Linked DNA regions of Homo sapiens: region 1 is linked to region 2. Evidence: fine-mapped expression QTL. A gene starts in region 2. The other region holds a variant in brackets. All regions are shown on one strand. Distances are from middle to middle.

The links.
Region 1: its variant is fine-mapped to the expression of GTF2H5 in whole blood (INTERVAL, PIP above 0.99).

Annotation. Positions count from the first base shown.
Region 1 is chr6:158,202,386-158,205,303 of GRCh38, forward strand. No RefSeq gene overlaps it. Among named protein-coding and RNA genes, the nearest start is that of GTF2H5, 35 kb to the left of the region's middle. The variant G/A (reference allele first, on the strand shown) is at 1,528.
Region 2 is chr6:158,166,712-158,169,629 of GRCh38, forward strand. It overlaps GTF2H5 (general transcription factor IIH subunit 5), which reads left to right and starts at 1,639. Exons shown (of 3, transcript NM_207118.3): 1 at 1,639-1,684. SERAC1 (serine active site containing 1) reads right to left here and starts at 1,551. Exons shown (of 17, transcript NM_032861.4): 1 at 1,429-1,551. RefSeq lists silencers at 1,349-1,418, 1,459-1,638.

The DNA.
Region 1 (2,918 bases), 36 kb after region 2:
GCATTTCTAGAAGGCTTCCAGGGGATGGCAGTGCTGCTGTCTGGCAGGTCACATTTTGAGTAGCTAAGCTCAAACACCCAAAGTGATGGTGTCATAGAGAAATAGAAGTTAAAGAAAAATGTTTAGGCCGGACGCAGTGGCTCAACCCTGTAATCCCAGCATTTTGGGAGGCCAAGGCAGGGGATCACCCGAGCTCAGGAGCTCAAGACCAGCCTGGGCAACATGGCGAAACCCCATCTCTACTAAAAATACAAAAAATTAGCCAGGCGTTGTGGTGCATGCTTGTAATCCCAGTTACTCAGGAGGCTGAGACAGGAGAATCACTTGAATCTGGGAGGCGGAGATTGCAGTGAGCCGAGATCATGCCACTGCACTCCAGCCTGGGTAACAGAGTGAGACTCTGTCTCCAAAAAACAAAAAAAAAGAAAAAGAAAAATGTTTAATGAGGCAGAGACCATGACCATATGGATAGATAATATTCTATATGTGTTATATGTATCCGTCTCCCAAAGTTTTAAGTGGAACAAAACTGACAGTAGATTCCCTTTAAAAGATAAAAGATTCATTATCATCAATATCTTTCTCCTCATGATGATTAAGTATTCGATTGTCAAGTTTCTTGAACTGATTGCTTTATGGCATATATACTGTCTCCTTCCCCAAACCCAAAACCGTTTTTTTGAAAGGGATAATAAGTATTGCATAAATACACCAATTGATCTATCAATTGATCATTTGATTGTTAGTTAAGAAGAAAAGATATACAATAAATTCTCTTGACAGGCTTGTTCCTGCAAGTGTCTAGAAATTATTAAAATCTTCAGGTCACAAAAACTTAAATTTAATCTCCAAATTTAATTTAATCCCAAGTACTTGGCAAAGTTAACTGTCCTTAATAACAAATATTCACACCAGATGTTTTAGAACCTTATACTTGATAAAATGTTCTAGGCCGGGCACGGTGGTTCACGCCTGTAATCCCAGCACTTTGGGAGGCTGAGGTGGGCAGATCACCTGAGGTCAGGAGTTCAAGACCAGCCTGGGCAACATGGCGAAACCCCATCTCCACTAAAAATACAAAAATTAGCCGGGCATGGTGGCAAGCACCTGTAATCCCAGCTACTTGGGAGGCTGAGGCAGGAGAATCGCTTAAACCAGGGAGGCAGACGTTGTGGTGAGCCGATACTGCACCACTGCACTTCAGCCTGGGTGACACAGTAAGACTCTGTCTCAGTAAATAAATAAATAAATAAATAAATAAATAAACATTCTAATACTTCACAAGTGGTAATGTTTTAGGAGATATACTCTCTCTGCTAAATTGATATTAATATATTGGGTTAAACTTCTGTATTGGAAATTCTAAAATGAACATAAAATATTGGCAGAAGCCAGAAAGGAACATTATTGATTGACAATTAAGCAGGCACAGCCGAAAATATTAATCAACACAGCAAGAAAGACAGGCATAGGATTTGAAACGTGATGACCTGAGCAGTTCACATTTTCTGAATCGTATCCTCAGGA[G/A]GAATTAATGCAGAGGGAGTAATCTGAGGAAGAGTAATGAGAAGGAAATACGACTGCTTTGTAGATTGTAATGATTTCTGTTTCCTTAAAACCCAGATTCAGTCCAATGGGGTACTTAACAGAGCTCCAAAGAAAAATAGAAGTTTATTCTGCTTGGTGATTCTTTTTCTGCCATCCCCAAATCATAGAGTATGTTATTTGCTCATGTGACACTTCCGTTTGGGAAGAACAAAAGCAGCTGAACACATTAACTCTTCAAACAAGTTTTTTAAAAATAATATTAGTTCTAACAGCTGATCTTGAGATCTACACATTGCCAGGTGGCCAAGCCCTGTGGAAGGGATTCCAAATGCACCAGAAGTTAGCCAGGTGAGGTGATGTTGAAATCATTTTGCCTTAAAGGAGGGGAGGGCCAGGTCTCTCTCTTGGGTCTCCAGGAGAACAGCTGTCCATAGGAAGCCTCAGCACTCCCAAAGCCCACAAACTCCATGGCCTCAAGTGATGATCAAAGGTCTTCCCCGTCCCCTCTGCATCTTCCTCTCTTCTTATGAAACCAAGAGCCTCAGAATCACCACAGTTGAGGCCTCTTCTTCCCTGGAAAGCCAAATTTTGGGCTGCCAGGCTAGAGTGTTCTAGAACGTCCCTCCGTGAGTCCACAATCCACTCGGAGGAGCAGTGACCCCGTGAAGGAAGTACCCTTTTCTTCCACTAACCAGGTTTCTCTGGGGAGTCCCCAACTTCTTTTCTGCCACTGCCAGAGGAGTCTGGAGGCTCCAGAGACCTGAGAAACCAAGAGGGTTTCCAGACCAGCAGCACTGGCCCCAACCTGGGAGCGCATTCCTAACTTAACTGAATCAGAATCTGCATCTTACCGGGTTTCCCAGAGGAGTCGGATGCACATTAAATCTGGCCATGAGGGAGCCACTGTGGGGCAAGGGGGAGGATTTGAAAGCTGACTCCAGGAACCACAGAAATGGCAAGTTAAGGCGTCAGATGAGGGTCTCCCCGGCACTCATTATCTAGCTGTCAATCCACCTAGCACCTCACAAACACTGACCTAAAACTCCTTTCTACTTCCACCCCCGTTCCGGGGAGAAACTTGGGGATTAAAGACAAGGTCTGGCATTAATGTGAAGAAGCTTTAGGATGCCAACCGGGGGCAAATGCGCCTTTAGCAAAATAAAGCCAGGCTCATTACTTCACAAGAAATAGGGCCAAAGTTACATTAGTAAAAGCAATATAAATTCCATGATGCCCCACCTTACCGAGGGGAAGCACCCACCTGCCACATACAGTGTCTTTGTGTGACTTAGAAAAAGGTGGCAGAAGCCGGCTTTGCTACTGGACAGCACGTTTAGGTGAAGGAAGAGGTGCCCCTCTTCCACATGGTT
Region 2 (2,918 bases):
CATCTATTTCTAGGTACCTTTAGTTTTGAATGCCATTATGAATAGTGTCTTTTTATTATTAAAACTCCTAGTTAATTGTTACTGGTATACAGAAGTTTTTAAATGCAGAAATTAAGGCCATTTCTGACATCCCCCTGGCCAAAATAACCCCTCTAGTCACTCTTTATCACATCACCAAATGGTACTTATTCCTTAACTGATTTCAGAGTCTCTCTGCCCCCACCAAAATTAGTTACCTGTTCACCATTGTATCCCAAGCGTCTAGAATAATAGCTGACACACATCAAGTGCACAAAAATGGAACTGATGAGATCAAGGAAGAGAATGTATGCAAGATGAAAAAAAGCAAATAAAAGATACTTGGGAAGAAGAAGACTTGGAGGCAATTTTTTTATTTTAAAGAGAGTGCAACAATATGGAAATCACCAGTTGGAAAAGATTTGAGGGATAGAAAGAGGGAACTAAATGGAAGAGCTGGGTTCCTTAGCGATCACATGAACACACACGATGTTAAAAAAAAAAAAAAAAAAAAAAAGGCAGCATGAGGTCGGGCGCGGTGGCTCACACCTGTAATCGCAGCACTCTGGGAGGCCGAGGCGGGGGATCACCTGATGTCAGGAATTCCAGACCAGCCTGGCCAACATGGACAAACCCCGTGTCTACTAAAAATACGAAAATCAGCCGGGCGTGGTAGCGCACGCCTGTAATCCCAGTTACTAGGGAGAATGAGGCAGGATAATTGCTTGAACCCAGGAGACGGAGGTTGCAGTGAGCCCAGATCGCGCCACTGCACTCCAGCCTGGCAGACAGACCGAGACTCCATCTCAAAAAAAAAAAAAAAAAAGGCAGCATGAGCTTAATGCGGGAAGTACAATTTAACCTAAGGAACAGAAAACAAGAATCTCATATCTCAACTAGTAAAAATAATGACAGTGTTCCTTTAGACTTACAGAACAGACTTGGGGAAAGGGAGTAACTTTAGAACCTTCTGGGGTCTTTCACTTTAAAATGACCGTTGCCGAGTTTAGAGCTCTCTCAGCATTCAATCTATTCCATCTCTGGGGTTAGAGAGGGAGCAGGAAGCGGTGGTCTGCAAGGCTCAGAAGTGACTGGTGAGGCCCTTTCCTCCTCCTCCTCATCTCTCCGTGACTACCGAGCCCGGGAAGACGGACCGGCAGGTGCACTCCCCAAGGCCTCGACAGCAGCCAGAGAAAGGCAGCGACAGGGAAAGACGAGTCAGGCTCGCGACCACCAGAGAGAGAGGCCCTCACGCCCAGCCGAGCGTCAGCTGGTCGGTCCGGTCCGCGCGCCAGACGGCGGTGCTCGGCCGTGCCCGGTCCCTGCCCTCCCCATTCTCCGCTCCCCACCGCGCCCAGCTGCGCCGACGCCCCCGTCCGCCCCCACACCACCCCTGCCTTCACGTCCTACCTGCCGGCAGGCGGACTCAGCCCGTGCCCAACTGCTCGTCGGACCCCGTTGTCTGGGGAGCCCTACTCTTTCCGCGGCTCCCGGCCGGGACCCTCCACCCGGCGGCTGGCGGCTCGTGACCCCGCCCCCTCGGCCCGCTCTGGGCCCGCCTCCCGCCGGCTGGCTCCACCCACAATAGCGTCCCTAGCGCGATGGCGTATCGGCGCAGGCGCACTCTGCCGGCAACGCCGAGGCGCTTCTGCATCTGTGGGCCGAGGTGTGTGGCGAGCGTCCGAGCGGCTGGGGAAAGTGGGGTGTGGGAACACTGAGGGGTCCCAAAGAAAGGGGAGAGGAAGAGAAAAGCCCCAGAAGCCTGTCCACCGGGTGCTGGGGGCACAGGGCGGTGTCCCCCACTCTCTCCGGGCCCTTCCTGGCGGGGCCGCACGGCAGTCCCCCCCTCGTTTAATCGTGGGTTTCCTGTGGGGCTAGGGCTCGCCCTGCGCCCAGGTGTAAGTGGAAGTTAATTAAATGGGCGTACGCTGAGTGGTTTGTTTCCAGCCTAGGTCCGCACGGGACGTGATTTATTTAGTGAAGGGGCACAAGATCTGGAGATCTGGCTTGTACTTTTTTCCTTTGGCCAGGAACTACGGCTTAATCTCTTCCTTTGGTCTCCTCATATGTAAAATGAGGTGGCTGAGGCCGGGCGCGGTGGCTCACGCCTGCAATCCCAGCACATTGGGAGGCCGAGGCGGGCAAATCACTTGAGGCCAGGAGTTCGAGACCAGCCTGGCCAACATGGTGAAACCCCGTCTCCACTAAAAATACAATAAATTGGCCTGGCGCGGTGGCTCACACCTGTTGTCCCAGCACTTTGGGAGGCCGAGGTAGGTGGATCATTTGAGATCAGGAGTTCGAGACCAGCCTGGCCAACATGGTGAAACCCTGCCTCTACTAAAAATACAAAATTTGGCCTGGCGTGGTGGCGGGCGCCTGTAGTCCCCGCTGCTTGGGAGGCTGAGGCAGGAGAATCGCTTGAGCCCGGGAGGCAGAGGTTGCAGTGAGCCGACATCACGACACTGCGCTCCAGCCTGGGCGACAGAGTGAGACTCTGTCTCGAAGTGTATATATACATATATATATATTATATATGTATTTTATATATAATATATATTTATTTTATATATAATATATAATATGTATATTATGTATATTATATATAATACGTATATTATATATAATACATATATATAATATGTATATTATATATTATATATAATATTATATTGTATATTATATATTATATATAATATATTGTATATTATATATATTATATATTATATATATTATATTGTATATTATATATAATATATTGTATATTATATAATATATTGTATATTATATATAATATACAGTATATTATATATAATATACTGTATATTATATATAATATATTGTATATTATATATAATATATTGTATATTACATATATTGTATATTACATATAATATATT